Regions from separate parts of the Homo sapiens genome. Here all the other regions are linked to region 3. Evidence: fine-mapped expression QTL. A gene starts in region 3. Each other region holds a variant in brackets. All regions are shown on one strand. Distances are from middle to middle.

The links.
Region 1: its variant is fine-mapped to the expression of RRAGD in whole blood (INTERVAL, PIP 0.94).
Region 2: its variant is fine-mapped to the expression of RRAGD in whole blood (TOPMed, PIP 0.99).

The regions. Positions count from the first base shown.
Region 1 is chr6:89,345,836-89,354,111 of GRCh38, reverse strand. UBE2J1 (ubiquitin conjugating enzyme E2 J1) reads left to right here and starts at 1,390. Exons shown (of 8, transcript NM_016021.3): 1 at 1,390-1,573. The coding sequence starts at 1,543. RefSeq lists silencers at 929-1,028, 1,039-1,748, 1,779-1,838 and an enhancer at 1,135-2,084. The variant A/C (reference allele first, on the strand shown) is at 3,521.
Region 2 is chr6:89,369,976-89,377,975 of GRCh38, reverse strand. It overlaps RRAGD (Ras related GTP binding D), which reads left to right. Exons shown (of 7, transcript NM_021244.5): 5 at 163-305; 6 at 5,391-5,539. Among named protein-coding and RNA genes, the nearest start is that of UBE2J1, 21 kb to the right of the region's middle. RefSeq lists enhancers at 1,878-2,378, 2,379-2,879, 4,973-5,092, 5,463-5,682, 5,592-5,886. The variant CTG/G (reference allele first, on the strand shown) is at 4,192.
Region 3 is chr6:89,407,547-89,415,817 of GRCh38, reverse strand. RRAGD (Ras related GTP binding D) reads left to right here and starts at 3,545. Exons shown (of 7, transcript NM_021244.5): 1 at 3,545-3,972. The coding sequence starts at 3,825. RefSeq lists silencers at 3,129-4,318, 4,349-4,458, 4,489-4,588.

The sequences.
Region 1 (8,276 bases), 62 kb after region 3:
TTTTGTTTGCATATCTCAGTCAGTCAGATTATCAGTTTACTATACAGAAAACAACATCAGGGAATGATTTAAAATATACCATCTAATTTTAGATATCCTTCACTTTTTTACTCCCAATTTCATCAAGAAACTCACAGATTTAGATTAACTTTAACAATAGAAAACAAATCAAATTTAAGAGTTTATGTCTTTATATAACAGAATAAAACTTGCCCAACCTGATTAACCCTTTCTATCCTCCCCACCTTCCCAATCCCTCCCTCCTTTCCTTTAGTAAGGTCCCTACTCCTTAAGTCTTTTGAACTCAGTCCTCTCTCGATCCCACACATTGGACAATGAAGCAGTAAGTGTGTCCTTTGAAGTTTAACCTTTCATATTTGTATGCTTTCCCTCACATTAAATGTAATTCCTTTTTTTGACAGCTTTTACATCTAAACAAACCAAAAAAAACAAAACTCCTGCAATGCCTAAAACATGTCGTGCACCTAACACACTACCCGAGAAAAAAATTGTTATGAATATCCAACTCTGGCCAGAGCCGTGGCTCACGCCTGTAACCCCAGCACTTTGGAAGGCCGAGGCGGGCGGATCGCTTGAGTCCAGGAGTTCGAGACGAGCCTGGCCAACACGGTGAAACCGTGTCTCTAACAAAAATACAAAAAATTAACCGGGCATGGTGGCACACACCTGTGGTCCCAGCCACGCTGGAGGCTGAGGTGGGAGGATCGCTTGGGCCCGGGAGGTAGAGGCTGCAGTGAGCCAAGATCGCGCCACTGCATCCCAGCCTGGGCGACAGAGCGGTGACACCGTCACACACACACACAAAATAAAAAATAAAAAAAATCCTATTCCATTTCCTTGTCACTGGCTTTCCCCCTCCTCACTTAACCCCCGCCCCTCGCAACAGCAACTGAATCTAAAAACAAAGCCTTTCCCAGACCCTGCGGGACCGCGCGCGGGCAGCCGGCTGCGGACAGCTTTGCAGCCGGAGCCCGGCGCCCCCTCCGAGCTCTCGAGGGCCCGGGGGTCCCGGACCTCGCCTACAGCGGGCAGGGCCGGGACGAGAGGACGAGGACGCCGCTCGCTCCTGCACCTCCCCAAGCCGGCTTCGCCGGGCGGGCGGCGGCTGGGTAGTGACCGACCGCCACGAAGCTACTGCCACGTCAGGGCAACTTCACAAATCCCGGACGAGGGCGGGTGACGCAAGCCGGGCGGCCGCGGCAGGGCTGGGCCTGCGACTACCCGAGGAGGCTGACCTCCAGCCCGGGCGCCCGGTTCAGCGCCGCCCCGGCCGGCGCCGGTGCCTGCCAGGCACTCAGGGAGGCGGGGGCGCAGTGGAGGAGGCGGCGCCATCGCGAAGCGAGCGCCTCGCCCGCACTCAGCCTTGCCACCCCGCCCGCAGTCCAGGCTGGACTGGGCGGCATTTGCCGAGGCTCCTCGGCCAGGCCCCGTCCGCCCGAGCCGCGCTGAGACCCGGGCAGCGGCCGCGTGGAGAGGAGGTGGCAGCGGCCCGGGAGGCCGGAGCCAAGCCAGCGACCCACCATGGAGACCCGCTACAACCTGAAGAGTCCGGGTGAGCAGGGCTGGGGCCCCTGGGCGAGGAGGGCGGAGTGACCCTGGACCCCGGGGTGGTCGCCGCCTCGGTCCCCTCGCGTCTGGCGCCACTCGCGGCTCAGCTCCTGGTTTCGCGCTCTACGCGAGACCGCCGCCTGCCCGGGAAGTACAGGCCGCAGGGCGAGGTGGCCGGGTGGACGTCCGCTGCCAATCCCCCGGCCGGCCAGCGCGCCCCGCAGCACCCAGCCTCTCCCTTTTCTCATCTTCGCCTGGTCCCGTAGAGCTGGGTCAGAAACTCATCCCTGAGAACAGGTGTAAAGGTGATGTCGGTGGGCGATAGTCATCAACCCCCTCGCTGTACCTGGTCGCTATTCCCTCCCTGTCGCTGCCACCGGACTTCTATTTACTTCTATTTACTGCCGGCTGATTTACTCACATTTGAGGAGTTGGTCGTTTAAATATCCTATTTGCAGCACTTGGGCGAATACAATTACAGACATAAAGGAAATGTTCTGTAACTAAACCAGTTAACTATAGAGCTAAAGCAAAACAAAACAACAACAAAAAAACACCTCGTTGAGCCCTGTTCTTGAGAGCTAACCTTGATTTTTGCCAGACTGGCTAATATGAAATGTATCTGTATTCAGTCGTAGCGATTCCTTTCCTGCATTTAATGATCCTGCTTTATATTTACACAAGCAGTCCCAGCAATCCTAGCCTCTAATTACTTTCTGGTGCATTATAAAGATAAGCAACTAGCTTTCTCAGCTTAATAAAACAGGCTTGAAATGAATCATTGGATCCTCTAAATGGTATTTTTTCTATCTGTACCTTGATACATTTTGTCAGGGGGAAGAAACTCCACAGTTAACTCTGCATGATAAACTCTAGGATATTAGTGATGATTTCACCAACTTTTGCTGTTGCTTAAAATTTCCTTCCAAAAAAAGCTGTTTCTCAGTAGGAATTAGCAAGACTAGCATCCTTGTGGAAAGAGTTGACACTGTGAATCTTTGGGTTTTTTGTAAGGTTTCAGAATATGCAAAAACCCCAGAAAAGCCTGAGGATATTGATTGGAGGGAGCTTTGTTAGCCTGAGTGCTGTCAGGCTAAGAAATGTCCTTAGGTGACCAAGTGTGTAGAACTGGTCATAATATTTTAGGAGCCACTGACTCCTTAAAAAAATCTGATGAAGACCTGGCACGGTGGCACACGCTTGTAATCCCAGCACTTTGGGAGGCTTGAGCCCAGGAGGTGGAGAGCAGCCTGGCCAACATGGTGAAACCCCGTCTCTACTAAAAACACAAAAATCAGCCGGGCATGGTGGTGGCGCACTCCTGTAGTTCCAGCCACTCGGGAGGCTGAGGCAGGAGGATGGCTTGACCCGGGGAGGAGGTTGCAGTGAGCCGAGATCGCGCCACTGCACTCCAGTGTGGGCGACAGAGCGAGACTCCATCTCAAAAAAAAAAAAAAAAAAAAAAAAAAAAAAGAGAATCCCGGGGTGGGGAGGGAGGAAGAAAAGACCAAAGAGAAAGAGGGAAAGAAAAGCTTAATTTTTAAGCTAGATGGTAAAATGATTGAATTATTTACATTGTGGTATATTTAACTGGAGCTGTTTGGGTAAAAATGTATGGTGGCTCCCTGGTCACACGGTTCCTTAGGACAGCAGAGGTGCTTAGTGAAAGGTCCAGAGGATAATGCACATGTGAGTAGTAGTGCAGTTTAGAATGGAGAACTGGTGGAACCCAAGAGATTGTTGTCAGAAAACATCGCTCAATTTCGATAGGTTAGACTTAATACTATGATGATAAGCTTTTAAAAATCTCCAGAATTTTGTATATTTCCAAAGTATGTGAACTATTGTCAGCTGGTTGAGCTTTGGTTGACATGCTTCTAGCTGTGTCATAAATTGCTTCCTTTTTCTGGTTTCATTTCCTCAAAGATAGTGTTGCTGCTCTAAAAAAAAA[A/C]ACACAATGCTTCTTAAAAATCTATTTTTGTTAGTGTGTGAATTATTTGGAGTTCATGGAGAAGTTGAATTAGGTAAGATATGGGACTTACTGAAAATGCTGGGAGGCATTGTGAAAATACTTCCTTCCTTTGCTTTATTCTCAGTCCTGTGGTATTTTTAGAGTAATGCCTGTGTGAAGGGGAGCAACTGAAAACTCCAATTTCCTGTGTATGGCAGGGTGCACACACACACACACGTAAAATACCAACATACCAGACAAACAAAAAACAACCACACAATGTGAGGGATATAATCTTTTACTCTTTATCTGATGTGGGATTGTCTTTGATGTATGAGTGGAAAGATTAAGTGAAGACAATACAGATAGCTGGTTAAGGGCCAGTGTACTAGCATGTGGATATAGTAAATTTTTTCATTTCATAGGTGGGGAAACTTTTTGCTTTATGGTTTTTTTTTGGAATGGACTTGTGATTATGGATAGAGCTGTTGTGTAGGATCACCTCACAGTAGTTGTCTGTGGTAGTTGTCAGTAGTTGTCTATGGATCTGCTACTGTAGTAGCAGTAGTTGTCTATGGATCATGCTACTTGTCTATAATCTGTCAATAGTTGTCTATGGATCAAGCTACTTGACCCGTGTTTGGGTCTGCTCTGGCCAAGGAAGTAGGGTCTTATAGTACAAAGTGAAGAAATGTGTATAAAGCACCTCCTTTGGCAGCTTCTTCATCAGGGGGCCATTGACATGTGCAGCAGGTGGTGGGAGTATAAGAGACTGGTGCAAAAGTACCCACTGCCTCCACCAGAAGTCTAAGAGTTACCTATCCATGCCATTGGTGTCAACTGCACCTTCCCACTAATCCACTCAAGGTTTCATGTCCAACTCAGGCCCTTCTCGTAAGCTATAGATACACAGAACTTATGGTGACTCAACATCTTCATTTCCCATAGAGTGAAAAAAATCTCTGTAAGTATAAAGACAAAACTCATCAGTTTTCTTCTCCTCCCCTAAACTTGCAGTTTACCCTAGTATTTCATATCTCAGGGATAGACAGCACTCAGGCACCTATGGGAGTCATTTTTTATTTCTTGGTCGCTTCCTTGCTCCATCCCTGCCCTGAAACACACAACTCAATACACACACAGAAACACATATATCTAATCAGTCACTGTTGTCACCAGATCAATCAAAACAAAAACTGATTACCCCCAAATTGAAAAATTTTCAGTAGCTTTCTGATAGCTGTCAATAAAGTTCAAAGTAAACTGCTTAGCTTGGCCTACAGGGCTGCTCATGATTGACCCTGCCCTTCCTCACCAGCCTCACTGTCCACCACTCTTATGCTCTTCCTCATTTTCTTTTTTTTTGAGGCAGGGTCTCCCAGCCTGGAGTGCAGTGGTGCCATCACAGCTCACTACAGCCTCAACCTCCTGGGCTGAAGTGATTCTTCCACCTCTGCCTCCCGAGTAGCAGGGACCACAGGTGTGTGCCACCACACCCAGCTAATTTGTGTATTTTTTGTAGAGACGAGGGTTTCACCATGTTGCCCAGGCTGGTCTCAAACGCCTGAGCTCAAGTGTTCCCTCCACCTTGGCTTCCCAAAGTGGTGAGATTACAGGTGAGAGCCACTGCACCAGGCCTGCGTTTTTACCTATCCATTTTGCCTGAATGACTCTCTAGCTGGAGTAGCTTTTCTCACTTAGGTGCTTTGGTTCCTGTTGGAACCTCTGCTTAGAATGCCTTCCTTTAAATCCATCTGAAATTCCTATAGTTCTTCAAGCTTTAAGGTTCAGCCTTGTCTAGCTCCCCTAGGCAGACTAAAGTAGTTCCTATATATACTTGTACATATATACTTGGTCAATATTACCACTTGGTTGTAATTATTTTCATGTCTTTCTCTACTGACTGTTACGGAAGACAAGAAGCAGGTCTTGGTCATTGTTTTATCTCCAACACTCAGACATTCTTTAAATGTTTGTTGAACTGATACATTTGCAGGGTCCTCCTGGGCAGAAACATCACTCTGTAGGCATTTGCTTAAGTACCTTCATTATGGGAGCAGGAAGAGGCAGTTAGGGAGCATGCCTTCCTTAATATACCTGTCTCCTGCATTTCACTCATGCTTTGGGAATTGATAATATCAAGATAATTGCTTTTGAAGAGGAATCCATATATGGGAAGCAGTGGCCTGTAGAAGATCCCTTTATTTTTAGCTGTATACAAACCCCAATGTGAGGCTAGTGAGCTAGCCAAGGTGTGTGAAGAATGCTAATGCCTAGGCCCACAGCACCTAGAGCATGGCTCCAGAGTGTCCATGTGGCCTCTATAAGAAAGAAGAACAAGAGCAGGCATCCAGGTGCCACCCCTTCCTTTCCTGGCACATCTTATCTCACCACAGTGAAAGGATTCCATGGAAAAACCTTTCCAAGAGATAGGAGAGGAGCTGGAATAAAAGTTTCCTCTCTAGCCATGTAGAAGCAAGAGATGGAGTATCAGGAGGGGCAGACTATGCTGTAGCCCGGTTGCCAGGCAGCACTGTGAACCATGACTGTTTCCTAACAGTGGTATTTCTCCTCAGGAGCCAGGGAGCCATATCATAAGGCCAGCGAAATCTGCTGAGGCATGGTTTTGAGTTAGGAAGAATCATTGAGAAGGCCTTATATACCAGTCCATTTTCAACCTTAATGACTCAGGGACTGGGCAGGAAGGAGGGGTGAAAAGGAAAGGAGAATTTTGTGGAGAAATTATTGACTCTTATTTGACAGATGTAAACATCAGATCAAGTGACTTGTTCAAGGACTTAGAGCTACAAAATGTCAGAGTCAGAATTTTAATGCAGCTCTAAATCGAGTCCCTGTTTCTTTTCACTGAAGCATTCATAATATATGTTATTTTTGCAAAAAAAATAGCTTATGGAAACAAGAGACTAATCTCACCTTTTGGCTACATGACCTTAGCTCTTACATGGTATGTGCCTGAGTGACTTATGAACTAATTAGCTATTTAGCTGTTGAACCAATGATTGTTCCTTTACAGGATTGGTACAGATACATTCTTATAACAATTCTGACCCTTTATACATCTCTCATAATATCCAGGTACAAGTTTTGAGTGTTTATTTTCTTCTCTCCTGTTGAACTGAACTGAGTAGGGAAGAGGCAGAGAAAATGCGATAAGGGTATAGAATGACATAAAATCTGACTTCAGCTTAATCATTATTGAGTTCAGCCAGTTGACGAGGAATGAAGGAAAAACAATCTTTTTGGCATCTCCAAACTAATTAACTTCATAACAGCTTCCATAATTGCATTTCTATCTAATAATATTAACTTAAAGGAATGATATGTTTATGTGGCTTTAAAGCAGGGTTTTCCATCTTTGTTCTATGGGTCCCTTCAGGAGTGAAATGGAAGGACAGGGAGTAGATAGTCCGCAGGCCCTTCCACTGGCCTCTGCAACCAAAGCGGCTCTGTGGTTTTTGTTTCACCTGTTGGGGTTCTCATTAAGCTTTCTTTGAATGAAGGATTTTGTTTTATTAAATAAGTTTAATTGTTTTATTAAGTAAGTTTAAAAACCATTGCCTTTAATCGGATTCTGAGAGCTATGTTGAGAGAAGATAGTAAAATTTAATTCAACTAATATTTGAGTACTTACCATGTGCTAAGCCCTGAGGAGACTGTACTGCTACAGCTACACTGTCATTACTATTGCTTAGCAGGAAAAACAGATATTAAACAAGTAATTACAAGTGAGATGAACTTCATAAGAGGAAAAATACAGTGTTATGATGGCATAGAGCAAGGAGACTCAACCTGGTCTCTAGGGCAGTGGTTTCTAAACCTAACCAGAGTAATTCAGAGAGCATTCCTAGTCTCTACCCCTCCCTAGGACGCCTCAGAGATTTTGATCTGCCCAGATTGAAATCTCCAAGCACTGTAGGGGGTGGGGGGCAGGGGGCAACCAGGGAAGGTGTCATAGAGACATTCCTGAGAAGTTACTTAAAGGTCTAGGGTAGCCAGACTAGACGGTGAGGCGGAGGATGGGGCCGGAGCAGCCTGGGCCCTGAGGAAAGCTGTATAGAAAGGCTGAGAGTGGAGGGGAGGTAAAGTGTGTTCAGGGAATTGACCAAAGCCCAGTCTCTAGACTTGGAGGGAGAGGGTGTCTCAGTATGTACATATTTCTAATATAGCATTTATCATTCTGTTTTGTATTGACTGCACCTCCCAGCCGTCAGTCTTTAGTGACCAAAGCCATATTTTGTTTACGCATGAAGCTGTAGCATCTAGTACCTAGTAGGAACTCAAGAAATAGTTGATGATCCAGTGAACAAAGTCTCTGCATATAGGGGCTTAGTTCAGAGTAAGAAATGGAAAAGAATATTAATAATTGTGAAGTAGGATAGTAACAACTTTTTTTTGGCCAGGCATGCTGATTCCCGCCTGTAATCTCAGCACTTTGGAAGGCTGAGGTAGGAGGATTGCCCGAGACCAGCCTGGGCAAGACAGGGGGACCCCAGCTCTACAAAAAATTTAAAAATTAGCCAGGCATGGTGGTGCATGCCTGTGGTCTCAGCTATTGGGGAGGCCAAGGTGGGAGGACTGCATGAGCTTGGGAGGTTGAGGCTTCAGTGAGTGAGCTGTGTTCGTACCACTGCCCTCCGGCCTGGAGGGCTTTTTTTTTTTTTTTTAGACGTAGTTTCGCTCTTGTTGCCCAGGCTGGAGTGCAACAGCACGATCTCAGCTCACTGCAGCCTCCACT
Region 2 (8,000 bases), 38 kb after region 3:
CAGTGAAGTTTAAATTGTAATAAAATGATACAATTTAAATTTTTAGTAGCGAGTTTTGCTCATTTTGTATTTTACATTAAGAATGGCATTCAATTTTGTGTAGTCATGACATGGTCTGAAGTTGACTGTTGCTTTAAGGCAACTTTTTTTTTTAAATTTCAGAATTCTGGAATTGAAAAGGCATTTCTATTTGATGTGGTCAGTAAAATTTATATTGCAACTGATAGTACTCCGGTGGATATGCAAACCTATGAGCTCTGCTGTGATATGATAGATGTGGTTATTGACATCTCTTGTATTTATGGGTAAGTACAACATTCTTAAAGGCCACAATCAAGCCATCCTTCCTTCATAACCTTTCAGGCATTTTGCATTTACATTTACTTACTTAACTTTAACATTTTTGTCTTAAATGACTGAAATCTATAAATAAATATACCAGTTAGCATGCAATAATAACAGTTATTGAGCAAATGCCACGCATTATGCTAATCTCATTGCATGCTTCCTATTATTTATTTCAATTTTTTAGCAATAGGGTGTCCCTGTGTTGTCCAGGATAGATCACTCCTGGGCTCAAATGATCCTCTCACCTCAGCCTCTCGAGTAGCTGGGATTATAGGCATGAGCCACTGTGCCCAGGTTATCATTTAATTCTCAACTATTCGATGTGGCAGGAATTACATTTGACCCTTGAACAACACAGGGGTTGGGGTACCAACCCTTTGAACAGTCAAAAAGCCACATATATTTCCCCCCTGACAAACTTAACTATTAATACTAATAGTCTACTGTTGACTGGAAGCCTTACCAATAACATGAATGATTGATTAACACACATTTTGTATGTTATGTATTACGCACTGTATTCTTAACAATAAAGTGAGCTACAGAGAAGAAATTATAAGAAAGAATATATTTACTATTTATTAAATGGAAGTGGGTCATCATAAAGGTCTTTACCCTCATTGTCTTCACATTGAGTAGGCTGAGGAGGAGGAAGAGAAGGGGTTGATTTTGCTGTCTTAGGAGTGGCAGAAGCGGAAGAAAATCCATGTATAAGTGGACCTAGGCAGTTCAAATCTGTGTTGTTTAAGGTCAACTGTAGTGTATTCACTTTACAGATGAAAAAACTGAGGTTCAGAGTGGTTACATTTCTTACTCTTGCTCACACTATCAGTAAGGATTGGAACTGGAGTTTCAACTCAGATCTGATTCCTGATCCTCTGCTGAAAAAAATCTGTTAACATACCGTTCTTAGAAAACAGAGCTTCCTATACACTTAATATAAAATAAACAAGGAGTGGGGGAAACTGATTATGTTACCCGATGTAGAAACAATTCTACATAATTATAAATGTGCTGAACAGGTGGTGTACAGACTGACTAGGTGTGAACTAGTTGTTCATCTTATTAAGATGTTAAGGTGTTGCTATCTGTATTGTATCTGACATCCTCATCTAATCGATGAGGTAAAGCTTTTGCTCATCTTCCTCTTTACTCACTGCCTGTGACCTGCCTTACACAGCTTGACGCTCTGCCTTTCAGCTTTTGTGAGAGTCTAGTCTCCATTTTTCTCTTCCATTGCTTAAAAATCCTTTGCCCACTCAGCTCGGATTCTCTCTGTTAACTGTTAGACACACACACACACACACACACACACACACACACACACCACACACACATGGAAAGTGATACTTACAAGATTGTATTGAGGATGAAATATCATTAGGCTCATAACGTGCCTTTACCTGGTAGACTCTGGATAAATGTAGCTGCCATAATTTATTATTACTGTTATAATTAAACGCTGACATCTGGCTTTAGAAATAAACCTTATTGCCCAAGATTACTGCCCTGAAGCATTCTATTATTTTTAAACCGTTTAAATGGATGACCTTGAAATAGTCATGGAAGATGAACGCACCCTGATTACAGTGCAGATTGCCATGGTAATCAAGTACAATGAACAACACAATTAATCTGGCACATGCTTAACAATGTGCATGATCATTATTGTGCCATATGGTCATTAGCTGTAAGTGGTAAGTTGTTCATGTAAATGATGTTAATCAGAGTTACTTTTACCCAGCTAAAACAAACATGGGGAGGGAGGGGTTAGGAGGAGGTGGCCTGGCTTTGCCGTCAGATTGGTTTTTCTGTGGTGGAGTACAGTGTTCTGAGAACCCACAGGATTCAGTAAGAACCAGTCTGGGTCACAGATGGTTTGTGGGCTCTGGGGTTTCCTCAGATTGTTTGCTGGAGCAGCAACAAGCCAGTCCTGTTAACCAGCAGGAGGCAGGGTTGTGTGCAGAGCCTGGGGCCCTCTTAGGCAATGAGGAAGCAGGTGCCCTTGTAACTGGAGGCCTTGCTGCCCCTCCCCACCTGCCCAGTGGAGACCAGCAGGCCCTAGAATCAGGTGACCTGGTGCCTCAGGAATCTCTCAGCTGAGGCTGTGCCCCAGCTGGCAGCTCTGTGCTCACTCATGCACACACATGCACACGCACATATATGCACACACACATGCACACACTTTAAAATATGTTCTATCTTCATGTGTTTTCATTGCTTATAGATGAAAAACTTGAGTAGTAAAACAGTTTTTGCAGTTGCAAACCTCATCAATTTCTACTTGTAATTTTTGGTGGAGTCTGTTTTTCTAATTTGTTTAATGTTTACCTTTTTCTGATTGTGAAAGTAATACATGCTTATTGCAGAAAATACATAAAAGTCTAAAGAATAAAATTAAAGTAGCCCATAATCTCACCACCTAGAGACAGTCAGTGTTTACATTTTATATAGTTTGTTCTTATTTCCATGTGTAATTTTTAGGATAATGAGATCACATTTGTATGTGAAATTTTTCATCCTGCTTTTTTCATTTAACATTACCACCTGATAATTTTCCTGTATTATTAAATGCTGTTAATAAACAGTGTTTAATATCTATATAGTATTATATTTACTTGGAAATTTTAAATGCTATTTTCTTCATTGGGTAAAACATGTTAAATGTTTCAGTTTCTTGTTCTCAGAACATTACTTATAAGCAAGAGAGATTGAGCCTTAAAATATAGTAGTTAAAACAGTGCAATGGAAGTTAATGAATTCTGTTAAAGCATCTTTAACATTTGATGTCCAGCACTTAAAAGGTTTTTCTTTAATGTTTTGGTAGGTTATAGTGAGTTGAATCCTTTAAAAAAAACAAAAAATACGAACTTCCACAATTTACTTTTTTTTTTTTTGAGATGGAGTTTCGCTCTTGTTGCCCAGGCTGGAGTGCAATGGCATGATCTCGGCTCACTGCAACCCCCGCCTCCCGGGTTCAAGTGATTCTCCTCCCTCAGCCTCCCGAGTAGCTGGGATTACAGGCATGCACTACCACGCCTAGCTAATTTTGTATTTTTAGTAGAGACGGAGTTTCTCCATGTTGGTCAGGCTGTTCTCGAACTCCCAACCTCAGGCGATCCACCTCGGCCTCCCAAAGTGCTGGGATTATAGGCCTGAGCCACCGTGCCCACCCTCACAATTTACTTTTAAGTGGCCATGTATATGGCAGCTTAAAATACTCTCAAAACTAAAAACCTACATTTCCTAAAAATACTCTTGTGCAATTCAGGCTTTTCATTAAATCTGGCTTGATACTGTACCCCCTTGTGTATTTACAGGATTAAAGCATTAACTTTGAAATTAGCCATATCTAGGTTTGAGGTCCTGACTTTACCCCTATCGTCAGCTTTGACCAAGTTATCTTATTTTCCCCTAGCCTCAGTTTCCTTAGAAACTTAGAGGATTCTTATAGCAGACAGAGGATAATGCATTTTAAGAACTAAGAATGGTTAATATCACATAGTAAGCTTTAATAAATGCTAGTTCTCAGTGAATGTGGTAAGGTTTAACACAATTCCAATTAAGTCAAATTTCTGGTCAGTTATTCATAAATTTGGGGAGTAAAAATAAATCAGAAAATTTATGTACAGTTTTAGGTAAGGGGGAAAAGGTTTAGGGAAGTGTCCTTTGCCTGTGAGGAAAGGATTCATAACACTTTTATTACACAGGTATCTTCAGAGGGTCCAGTTTCAGTCATTAAAGCCATGATAATAAGTGTGTATTTTATGTTCTCAGCATTATGCTTAGTGCTACATATGCATTATTTCATTTAATCTTCATTAGAAAACTTTGAAATAATTA[CTG/G]TTAGTGTACATATGAGGAAATTGAGGCTCAAAGAAGTTATTCGACTTGTCCAAGCTCACATAGCTAGCAAATAAAAGAAATGAGATTCAAACCCAAGTCACTTGTGTCTGCACACCACACCTTTTCTTAAATAGACCTATATATCTTTTTTTTTTTTTTTTTTTGAGACGGAGTCCTGCTCTGTCACCCAGGCTAGAGTACAGTGGCACAATCTCGGCTCACGGCAACGTCTGCCTCCTGGGTTCAAGGGATTCTTCTGCCTCAGCCTCCCGAGTAGCTGGGACTACAGGTGTGCGCCACCACGTGGTGCCTGTCTAATTTTTGTATTTTTAGTAGAGATGGGGTTTCACCCATATTGGCCAGGCTGGTCTTGAACTCATGACCTCGTGATCTACCTGTCTCCCAAGTGCTAGGATTACAGGCGTGAGCCACTGCGCCTGGCCAAATAGACCTATATATCTTATTTAACTCTTTATTTTGAAAAAAAGTTAAAACCTACAGAAAATATACAAGGGTAGTAAAATGAACTCCTGTATAACTCTTCACTGGGATTCATCAGTTTTTACCAATTTGCCATATTTGCTGCATCTCTCTTTTTCTAATACATATTGTGTATCTATTTCTTTTCAGTGAACCATTTGAGAGTAAATTGAACCAGTTCACAGTTCAGCAAATTTAGCATGGCTACATTATTATCTAATATATAGACGATATTCAGATTTTACCAGTGGTCCCAATTCTATCTTTTATAGCAGTTTTTCCCAATTCAGGATCCAGTCTAGCACTTGGCTTTCAGGTCTCTTTAGACTCCTTGAATTTGGAACATATCTTCAGCCTTTCTTAGTCTTTCATCAGACCACGCTTTTGACAGCCTGGCTATTCTAGGTGAGAAAACAAGAAGCCCTTGGCCACGGAGGTGGGGAGAGCTAACCTCATCCTTCAACTGGCTTCTTCAGGTGCCTGGAGAGTGTCCCAGCTGCTGCAGACAGCCACTCATTGTCAGTAGGAAATGACTGTTGAGGACTGTGTATGTTTTTGTGCCTGTGTGTTTCTGAGCTCTTTTGCTGAAAGGCACTGCAAGTGTAAACAACTTATGATTATCACTTTTTGTGGCTTAAAGCCGGTCTCTTGTCACTGGCTTACAGTTTCTAGTTCTTTCTCAATGGTCACATGTTTTGGTTTCTGTCCCCATTTAGTCTCAAAGAAGATGGAGCAGGAACCCCCTATGACAAGGAATCCACAGCCATCATAAAGCTTAATAATACAACCGTGCTTTATTTAAAAGAGGTGACAAAGTTCCTGGCTCTCGTTTGCTTTGTCAGAGAGGAAAGCTTTGAAAGAAAAGGTAACTTTTTGGTGTGATTTAAAAGAAGCATTAAAAGAAGCATCAGACTGCTACTGCATGTATTGTTTGTTGAATGTGGGTGGACAACAGCATAGCCCTCGAAACTTCCAGATGCCAGTCACAGGCCCTCTTGGCTTGGAGTTCAGAGCGGGGCGGGCTCCTGCCCCCAGTGTCAGCTTCTGGGCCAGTGAACTGGCCTGCCCTCTAGTGGTGCATCTGCGATTGCAGCGAGGTGGAAGTGGAACCCCATGATCCTCCCAGGGGCCTTGGCATCTCTGCTAGGGGGAAGCTAGTTGGGGCACTGTTGCCAGGCTGTGAATGAAGTCTCTTACCAGGGAGCAGACTCCCAGCCTATACTGAGGGTGGAGGTCTCCACTTTGCTCCACACCTCTAGAAGGTCTTAGGTAACCGTGTGATCTTTTGTTCTTCCCATGTAAAGGAGGGGACAACAGGTGGTTTGACTTCTGTTCAGCCTCAAAATACTTCTTAAATCTTCAGAACACAGGGATGGCATCATGATTCCGGAAAGGGAAGACCATGAATATATTTAACTCCACCAAATTTTTTTTAGGATCAAATTCAGTTTTATTTTGAAACAAAAGCAATTAAACTAATTTCCCCCTTCTATAATATCTAAACAAAAGTTACTAACAGAAGTCCCTAGCTTACTGATATGGCTAGGGACTTTTGTTAGTAATAGGGTATGGTTTACTAATTTGTTGGGTAAAAGAAAATCTCCAACAAATAGTTACATATCCTGAATATGTTATAGTAACATATCCTGAAATAGCCTTTTTCTTCTATATTATAAGCAATATAAGCCCATTAAATTAAAAATGCTTTGAAAATTTAGGAAAGTATGTAGAATAAAACCAGGTATTTCACCATCTAGAGCTAAACCCATGTTAAATTTCTGGGATTTTCTTTCTCCCTTTCTCTCTCTTTTTTGAGACAGGATCTCGCTCTGTTACTTAGGCTGGAGTGCAGTGGCACAGTCATGGCTTTCTGCAGCTTTGACCACCCGGGCCCAAGTGATCCTCCCACCTCATCCTCCCATGTAGCTAGGACCACAGACACATGTCAACAACCTGGAATTTTTTTTTGTTTTTGGTAGAGATTGGGGTCTCACCATGTTTCCTAGGCTGGTCTCAAACTCCTCGGCTCAAGTGATCCTCCCACCTCGACATCCCAAAGTGCTGGGATTAAAGGAGTGAGCCACCACGTCTGGCCCTTCTCTCTTATTTCCTCTCCCTCCTACCCTCGCTCCTTTTCTCCCTTCCTTCATTCCTTTTTTTCCTTCCTTCCAACAAAACTGGGGCCATATTGTCTAATATAGTTTTATATTCTAATATAGTTTTATATTTAATACAAATATGAAAATATTTATATTTTATATTACATATATTTCACTTACGTATATCATGAAATTTTCCTAATTCATTGGCCATGAAAACTTAATTTACATTGTTTATTTTTATCAGAAAAGTAATAGATTCTTTTAGAAAATTTAGAAATAATATTTAGCAAAAAAACAATAATTATCGATGTTTCTCATTCAGATAACTACTCTTAACATTTCCTGTATACTTTTCCAGTCCTTTCTTGCATATGCATTTTCTAAAAGGACTATGATAGATTGTATGATGAATTCTACTTTATAACCTTCACTTAAATTATTACAGACATGTTTCCAATTCACCGTCTTTTTTTAACCACATCATTTTAATGATTGTATTAGATTCTTCTATTTTCAGACATCTATGTTGTTTCTAGATTTTAATGTTATAAATAATATCATTATGACCTCTTTTGCACTAAATATTTATGTGCATCTTTGGTTGTTTCCTAAGGAAAAATTTAAAGTGGAATTACTTAGATCAAAAGGGTAGGCCCATTTTGGGGGCTTCTAATGCATATTACCAAAATGTTCTTCAGAAAGATTTTCTGGTTTTATGCTGCGAAGAGAATATGAATACTTATTTTGCTGTGTTCTTATCAATATTGGGTATTAGTATTTTTAAAAGTTGTTAACTGAAAACTGGTATATTATGTGAATTTACATTTTCTTGCTGCTTAGTGATGTCCTGTATTTTTCCTGTGTGTACCATGACTGACCAAATTGCCTTTTGTGTCCTTTGGCCTCAGAACTGTAAATTAAATGGTGTTCATCTTTTACTCCTTATTTTCATCTTGCTAGAAACAAGAACAGATTATATAATAGATCACGGAATTTTAAAGATAGACAGGAATACACCTTGTTTCACCCTCTCATGTCACAGATGATTTTACTCAGGCCTAGAAAATATAAATGACTTTCTCTCAACATCACACCACCACTTTATGGCAGTCAGGGCTAAAGGTTGCTGGCCTCAAGTGATCCTCCCTGCTCAGCCTCCCGAAGTGCTGTGCTGTGCCTGGCCTCCTGGTGTGCCTGGTGCCTGGGTGTTTTTATTGTGCAGCT
Region 3 (8,271 bases):
GATCTCAGGCAGTCTTGGACAGATGAAGGCCTAAGACTTATGCTCTTTTTGCATGTCAGCTCATTCCTAGTTGCTCTCTTGTAGCTAACACTTCATATTTACCCACACTGTGGCATTTCCCAAGGTTTGGAGCAAGTAGAAAACTTGGCTGCTATTTCTTCCTGAAGTTTCTCTCAGAAATAGGCTAGATCTGTGTGAAGAGCCATATACTATCTTCCTCCGTTCTTCCCACCCTTCTTTTCTTCTTCTCTTCCTCCCTCCCTTCCTTCTCTCCTTCTTTTCTTTCTCCCATCTCTCTTTTTTTCCATAAGCATTTATTAAGCACCTGTCAAGTATAAGCCATGGTTACATACTTGCCATGGTTACATACCACAGCAGAAACCATGGGTAGCCCAGAGACCAATCTTCACATTCTTCAGAGCACTCTCCTGGGGAGACATCCCCAGACATAGGCTGAGCTCCAGTGCAGAGCGGCCAAGGCAGCAGCCAATTCACTGAGCAGATCCCACGCTGAGTTTCTTAAAGGCTTTCAGGGTTCTTGTAGTGTTTTTCAGTTTTTATTTAAATTCAGAAAGATTCTACACACATGATTTTTTAAATTCAAGAACTTCTATTTCTAGGATATTTTCAACATATCTCTTCTTTGAAAGCTGACAGTATTCAAATGATGTCAGCAAAAGAAAAAAAGCAATCAAGGCTTTTCCTGTTCTGTTCAACTATACATTTCTGAAATGGTAGTAAATTAGAATATCTTAAATCTGTATATGACTCTTTAGCTTGGGGTAGAATATAATTGAGGATTTGACTTCTACTGATTTTTTTGTGGGATTTTATTTTATTCTTATTCTTAAGAATGGTCCAGGTTGGGTGCGGTGGCTCATGCCTGTAATCCCAGCACTTTGGGAGGCCGAAGTGGGTGGATCACCTGAGGTCAGGAGTTCGAGACCAGCCTGGCCAACATGGTGAAACGCTGTCTCTACTAAAAATACAAAAATTAGCTGGGTGTGGTGGTGCATGCCTGTAGTCCCAGCTACTCAGGGGCTGAGGCAAGAGAATCGCTTGAACCTGGGGGGTAGGGGTTGCAGTGAGCTGAGATCATGTCACTACACTCCATCCTGGGTGATAGAGTGAGACTCCATGTTAAAAGAAAAAAACAAAAGAATGGTCCAATTCTCAAGTATCTTGGAGTGTGCCCCAATCTATTGTTTCCTTCTAAGATCTCTCTTCCTGGGGAAGTTAGAGGATCATCAGACATTTCTGTCCTTTCTAGTCCATAGGCACAGTGGGGCTGTTGGATTATGACCTGCCCTTTCCTGATCCCTTGAGTCCATGGGTCTTACACACTTGGCAACCTGCCCAGGAATGCCCTATACGTCTGAGTCTGGGTTGACCTTGGACAGTCTTCTAGATCTCCTAAATTGTTATTTGCAGTTTGAATCAGACCAGTTCAAAGGCCACTTGAGGATGGTGGGCTAGCTATAGAATAGCTGAAAGTCCTCAGCCACACTCTGGGAGGCCCTCCTCCCTGGGGTTTCCTTTGACGGAAGGGATGAAAATAGGCTAGGAAAATTACTCCTAGGAAATGAGCTTTGTAAGTACCTGAGATTTTTTTTCCGCCTCATTTAATCTTCCTAATAATCCTTAGAAGGAGTGATGTTCTATTGATAAGCAATCGGGTTTAGAAGGGCATAAGTAACTTGCCTCTGATGGGAGTATGTAGTGCCTGCTTGTGTTGGTGATGCTCCTTGCACCTCACCCCACCCAGGGACCCACTCCCTGCCCTCCCTATCCAATCTCTGTCCTGGACTAGGTTCCAGGCTCCCTTGCCTTCTGGCTACCAGATGGGTTTGGCCAATGGGAGACACAGGAGAGTGGAGGGAGGATGGATGGAGAGAAAGAGAGGTCTTTGCTCTCTCCTTGATGTGAGGCCGTTCTGGCAGCAGCAGCTTCCTCATCAGTTACAGCTCCTGTTTTGTGGCCCCTCTCCAGGACTCTAGCTCCCTTCCTCACTCCTGTAAATTTAGGGGTGGTGTTATCTTCCCACTATCGCTAATACCTGCATTGATTCCCTAAACTCTGTCCACACCCCTGTAAATTGTTCCTTCACTTGAAGGCTTCAGTTAAAGTCTTTGCACATACCGTCTGTTTCATCCTGGGAAGAACCTTAACTGATACAGTCATACCAAATTATACTGCCTGCCTCCCTTGGAAAATCTCAGGACCTTTCCCATTAGAAGCAGCCACCTTCTGGAAAGTGTCTGCATCCACCTTCTGCACTCAGAAATACTAAAAAAAATCCAGGACATGAGTCATGATTTGGTAGACTGTGAGCTCCTTCAGGGCAGGAACACTGCCCTGAGCATTCTTGGACCCTCTACTTAGCCCAGCCTCAGGCATATAGGAGGTGGTTAATAAATGTTTCCTATGGAGGTTAGCACCCTTGGGCCCTGAGAGTCTCCTGCCCTAGCTTCCTCCCTCCGCTTCTGCACCGCACCACCGGCTGAGCTGCTGGCACCTGTAGGAGCTGGATCATCATGCTGACCGGCCGGTTTTTTCTTATTGTGCTCCACAGAAGGAAGTTCATCCACGTAATTTTTTGCAGTACCCAGAAAGGGTGGGTACAGTGTGTTCCGTGGTGAAAAGCTTGTGAAGGAGGAATGCAGGTTTTAGAGTCTCACTCCACGTTGCTGCTATTCCTATTTGAGAATTGCCCCCCCACCACCGCCACTCCCCTACTCCCACAAAAGCCTTGAAATATTTTATTCATGTGGGATTACAGTCTATGCAACAATGAGACATGAGGAGGTGGCCATGAATAGCCCCCGAGTGTGTTATACACTGAGACCTTTTCCAAAGGGCTGCAGAGGAATTATTTAGTCTAAGCAGCCACGAGTCATGTGATTTCTTCAGAAACATTTACGTCTGGGTAGGCCTGCTTTTTAAATATTCTTGGTGGGAAGCACTTTGAACCATAAAGGCACACTAAAAGACAATTGCTATGGAGACTGCGCCTCCACTGTGCATTTATCTGAGTTCTCCGCCTGGGGCTCTTGAGCGTCCACAGGGTGTCCTGGGCACGCTGCTCTGGGGTGGGGGATCTGGGCGCCACAGTGTTGGGAGGCCACCCGCTTGGGACCCTAGCTCAGGACTGTAAGCAGGAGGCATCCGCCCACGGTAGACGCTCTGCGGGCGTGTGGGAGTGGGACGGCGGGGGGGACATTGAGGGTGTGCGGCGCCCCCTCCCCTGCCTGTGCGGGGACCACGTGAAGGAGAGGCGCGTGGGGGCCCCTGGCGCGCAGCCGCGGTGGGTGACGGCCGGCGTCCCGGGGGCCCCGTGTACGGGGCGTGTGTCGGTGTGAGTCTGGGAGGGTGCAGGGGCCCCGCGCCTCCCCGGTCTCCTCGTGCGTGTGCGTGTGCGTGTGCATGTGTGTCCTCGGCCCAGCGCCCCGCCGAGTGGTGCCCGCGGCCGGGCGAGCGCGCGCGCGCCCGTGCGGGGTGTGTATGTGAGTATGTGACAGTGTGTGTCAGGTGACTCGGGTCACGCAGTCTCTCTCTCTCTCCCTCCTCCGGGAGGAACTGCCGCGCTCCGGCTGACTCCTCCGCCGGCGGGCGGGGCGGGGGAGGGGGCTTCGGGCGCGCTGGGAACCGCGGGACCCGGACCTGGGCGCCGCCCGCCGGGGGACGCGCGGCCCCCGCTTCCGCCGGGCCCCGCTGAGCTCTAGACAAACCTCCGCTTCAGAAATAGGCTGCGGGCGGCCGGCTAGGAGGCTTGGCCCCCACCCCGGGACCCCCGCCGTCCCCGGGCCGGCCGGCCGGTGGGCACGATGAGCCAGGTGCTGGGGAAGCCGCAGCCGCAGGACGAGGACGACGCGGAGGAGGAGGAGGAGGAGGATGAGCTGGTGGGGCTAGCGGACTACGGAGACGGGCCCGACTCCTCCGACGCCGATCCGGACAGCGGCACAGAGGAGGGAGGTGAGCGCCCGGCCCCCGCGTCCTCGGCTCGCGCCCCTTTCCTCCCCTTGGCGCCTTCCCGCCCCCAGCCCGGCCGTGCGCGAGCCACCGACTTGGAGGGGGTCCAGGGGAGCGGGTCCAGTTGAGGGTTTGGGGTGGGGAGGGACGCCAAAAGCCCGACCTCGAGCTGCCAAATGAGGGAGCGCGGTGCTGGTGGCGGAGGGGCAACCAGGATCGGTGGAAAAGGGGAAGGAGGGAGTAAGCGTCTGGGCTGGAGGAGCGCGCGCTTCTGCCCCTTTCAGAGCCGGTGCCTCCCGCGCCCCTCACCCCAAGCTCTCCGCAGCGTCTGGCGGTTGGGGAGGGGAGGGGACCGCGGGCGCGCCCTGGGACCTCTCTCCCAGAACGGTGCTGTTGAAGCCAGGGTCAGATGTCGTGGCTAAAAAAAGGCAGCCGGCGGCGGCGTGACTGGCAGGGTCGTCGGCAGCTGCGGGTGTCAGTCTCGCCCCGCGTCGCCGCGGGAGGGGCCCACCCAGGTAGTGGCTGGGGAGACCCGCGGGGCGGCGGGGGGATGCTCGCCAAGCTGTTGTGGGAGTCTCCGAGAGGCCGCAGATTTCCCGGGATCCACGCAAACACCGTTGTCAGGACACCTTATCTGCTCTCGGTATCACCACCTGGACATGGCAGTGCCTGCCCGGGAGTGAGCGCGCGGCGGGGAATTCTTTGCTTCAATAGTGAAGCAAACTCTTTTTCCTGTTCTAGAAGCGGGTTTTAGCAATCGTTCAGCTTGTGGGGGCTTCCTGCATTTTCTTAAGGTGTAAGGAAGTTGAGAGCCTTTTAGTATTCCAGAGAGGTTAAACTTTTTTTAGTTTCCCTCAGAAGCGAGCAAAAGTTCCTTTACTGTAAGGTCACTTGGAAAGGTCAATAGAAAGCGGCTGTTAAACATGATGTTATTCTCAGTGAAACTGTATGCATCCAAGAGAAGGAACTAACTTTAATGTTTCACACTGAAGAAATTGTGTGAGAGATACAAGTACCTTTGTGACTATTGATTTTTAAAGAACTTTTATTGAGAATTCACTGAACTTATTTTAAATTCTCTATGCAAAGCTTTTCTCACTAGGGTAGTTTCATTATTCTACATCTGGCAGGCACGACTTTCAATGAATCAGAAAGGAAATAAAGTTAACTATGCCTTGCGCCTGGTAGATGAGAAAGCAGCCTCTCAAGTCACCCTTTTTCATAGCGTTTTCTCTCTTGGGATGATTTGTGCTAATTCCTCATTTGCTTAAACTGATGTGTGCACCTTTGTGCTTTCTGTCTTCTGCACTCCCGGTAATTGGTCTTACCGTTGAGCACCAGGCCACATTTTTGTAGATAAAGGCTTTCAGCCGTTTTATTGGAGTCTCTAGAGCTACCTTCCGTAATTAAATTGTTCAGTCGCCTCATTATTATTCAAATTCCATTTGTTAGCTCCTCCCAGATTCTTAGAAGACTCCGGAGAGATGCAGAATAGGGATGTATTTGCAAGGTATTTGAAATGGTGGACACAGTAGGGTGTGTGTGGGATTCTCTTTTTTAAAAAAGAAAAAAAGTGGGGGGGCGGAGGGGCCATATCCAGGAGGGAAAGCCCTGTAATTTGATACTGTCCTGAGGCCTGGAGGGTCCAGAAAAAGTACTGGACCCCTCGTTTATTCTGCAGTTCTTTAAGTGGGCACTTTTAAAATTTGATTTGGGGACTTGAAATTGAAGTGAAATTAAAGCCCTGCTTGAGGGATGGGATTCCCGGAACAAAGGGCTTCCCCAGAGCCCAGACTTGGAGGCTCCTTAGCTGTTAACGTAAAGGCAAACTTGCCTGTAACTGATTTTTGGTGACTCGCATAATAAAATCCTTCTGAATGGGCTTTTGGGATCAGCTTGGGATCTTGCTATAAAAGGATTAAATATATTTATATTGTGAGAAGAGCAACATGTTTGCTCGGCAAACGTTGCTTAAGCCTGGTCTCTGTCCACCTGGGCCTGCAGTGGATAGGTGGTCTGCTTCTCAGACTTCCTCCGTTATATTTTGGCCTCTGTTCTTTCCAGATTTCCCTGGCTTTGACTTTTGGGTTTAGGCCTTGATGCAGAATCCCTTGTCAGGACATTTGCTCTCTAGTGTCAGATAGGCTCCTCAGTCAGCAATTCCAGCGAGGACTGCTCCTGATGGCTGTCAGGCCAGCTGATATGGTCTGGGGAGTGGGGATTGGGAGGAGGAGGTTGGGAGTTGTGACTTCCCTTCCTGTGCCCTTCAAAAGGCTGATTCACGTGTTGCATTATAATCTTGTTTTATTTTTGGTAAAATTTACATTTACCTACTCTCAAACTTAAGAAATAGAATGTAGGGAAAAAAAGGAGTTATTCTGAGAAAAGATGTACTTTGAACCACTAGCAAAGCATTTCTCTAATGAACCCCCACTCCCCTTTCCCCTTCCTAATAGCTTGGTTTAGTGCCTGCACTTAGTGGAGACGTGGGACTTTTTCCACTAAGTTCAGAAATCTACCCTGGTGGGTGGGAGGCTGAGGGTGGGATGTGGGACCAACTAGTATTGCCAGTTAAGTTGCAAAGCAATTTATCAGGAGCTGTGCAAGAGAAGTGGACTAAAGGTGGATATGTAATGCAATTTTCATTTCCCTCAGTCTGTAGGACTTATAAAGGAACCTCTGGTCTTATTTTTAAACCGAGTATGCCTTGTAAATTTTACCACATTGTACTGAGTTTGAAAACATAGGGCAACTAAGGTGAGACTTAAATTGCACTTCTCTGGCTTCCACTCCATATTTTATTCATGAATAGCAAAAGTGTTCTCAGGCACATTAGTTCTGTTAGGGCAGATTTGGGCACCTCTCAACCTTCCTTTCATGGTAGTTAATTGCAGGTAAGGTGAGTCTCACCTTCAATCCCCACACTCCAGATAAAACTACCAGAGAGGAGGGAATGGTTAGGCCGTTAAAAACAATTGCACCAAAAATAATGATTATTTTTAGATTCATGGACTTTAAATCTTTTGATAAATTACTGTGCTTTAAAAACTGTAATAACAGGGAAAGCAATTACAAGATCATATTTAATCAGAAAGTAAAATTGTTTTCCCCCCAAAACCCCTCCCATTTTTTAGGAGAAACTTGGCTAACGTAAGCTGCTCACCCACAGTCCAGTGAAGTTCGGTCTTTGCCTTCATAGCAGCCTGTGCGCACCCTTAGGGTCTGAGGAAGTGACTGTGTAGGTGGTTTCTGGAGGCATGAAAGATCCAGGGTCTTCCTTCCTGAAGGATGTAGATGGGGTGAATCCAGCAATTCATATGTATTAATCATTAGTTCATTAATGTTAGCCTTTTGTGGGGAAGGGACTGGGTCTCTCTATATTGCCTAGGCTGGTCTCGGACTTGTGGGCTCAAGCAATCTTCCTGCTTCAGCCTCCCAAGTAGCTAGGATTATAGGCATGCATGACTGTGCATGGCTTTTTCCTAAAATAATTTTAAAAATATTAGGGAATTCACCTTTTCATTGTTCCTTGGAAGTAAGTAGAGATAACAGTTATACTGATACTGAAATCATGGCTCAGAGATACCAGGGGGCTTTTCTACTGCCCTATCATGAGCTAGAAATGAGCGAAGTATTTAGAAGAGGATCAAGTATATGGAAATGTAAGCCCCTTTTCTTGTAATTCTGCCTTATCCAAAAAGAGCTGGCTTGACTACAGCCCTGGACACAGCTTATCTCTTAGATTTCCTTCTGGCCCTGGAAATACAGAAGAGTTGGAACAGATGAAACTACATAATAGGTTAAAATGATGTGCCCAAAGTTAAACTTTAGGTAAATACTTGTTCGAATGCCTGTATTTAGAGAGTATCTTTCTATATCAGATGTTTTATAAACCTGTGTCAGTGATTCAGGGCATCAGAGAGTACTGACTCTCTACTTTTATTAGCGATCTCTTCCATTTTAATACTAGATAGAGGGTAGTCTAATGGAAACGGGAGGCACAAACAGCAAGTTCTGGATAAGAGCCGATGACTTTGGGTTTGAGAGATCATCTTTTGTCTTTCAAAGATAACTGAGTCTGCCCCAAGTTCACCCCCTGTGTTATTCAATCCTCCCCCAGCCCATAGTAAATGCTGGTGACAATCAATTTCACTTTTAGCACAGACACTTCGTTCCTGCTCATTTTTCTTCTTTCTTTCCTTCTTTTGAGATGGAGCCTCACTCTGTTGCCCAGGCTGGAGTGCAGTGGCATGATCTCGGCTCACTGCAACCTCCACCTTCTGGGTTCAGGTGATTCTCCTG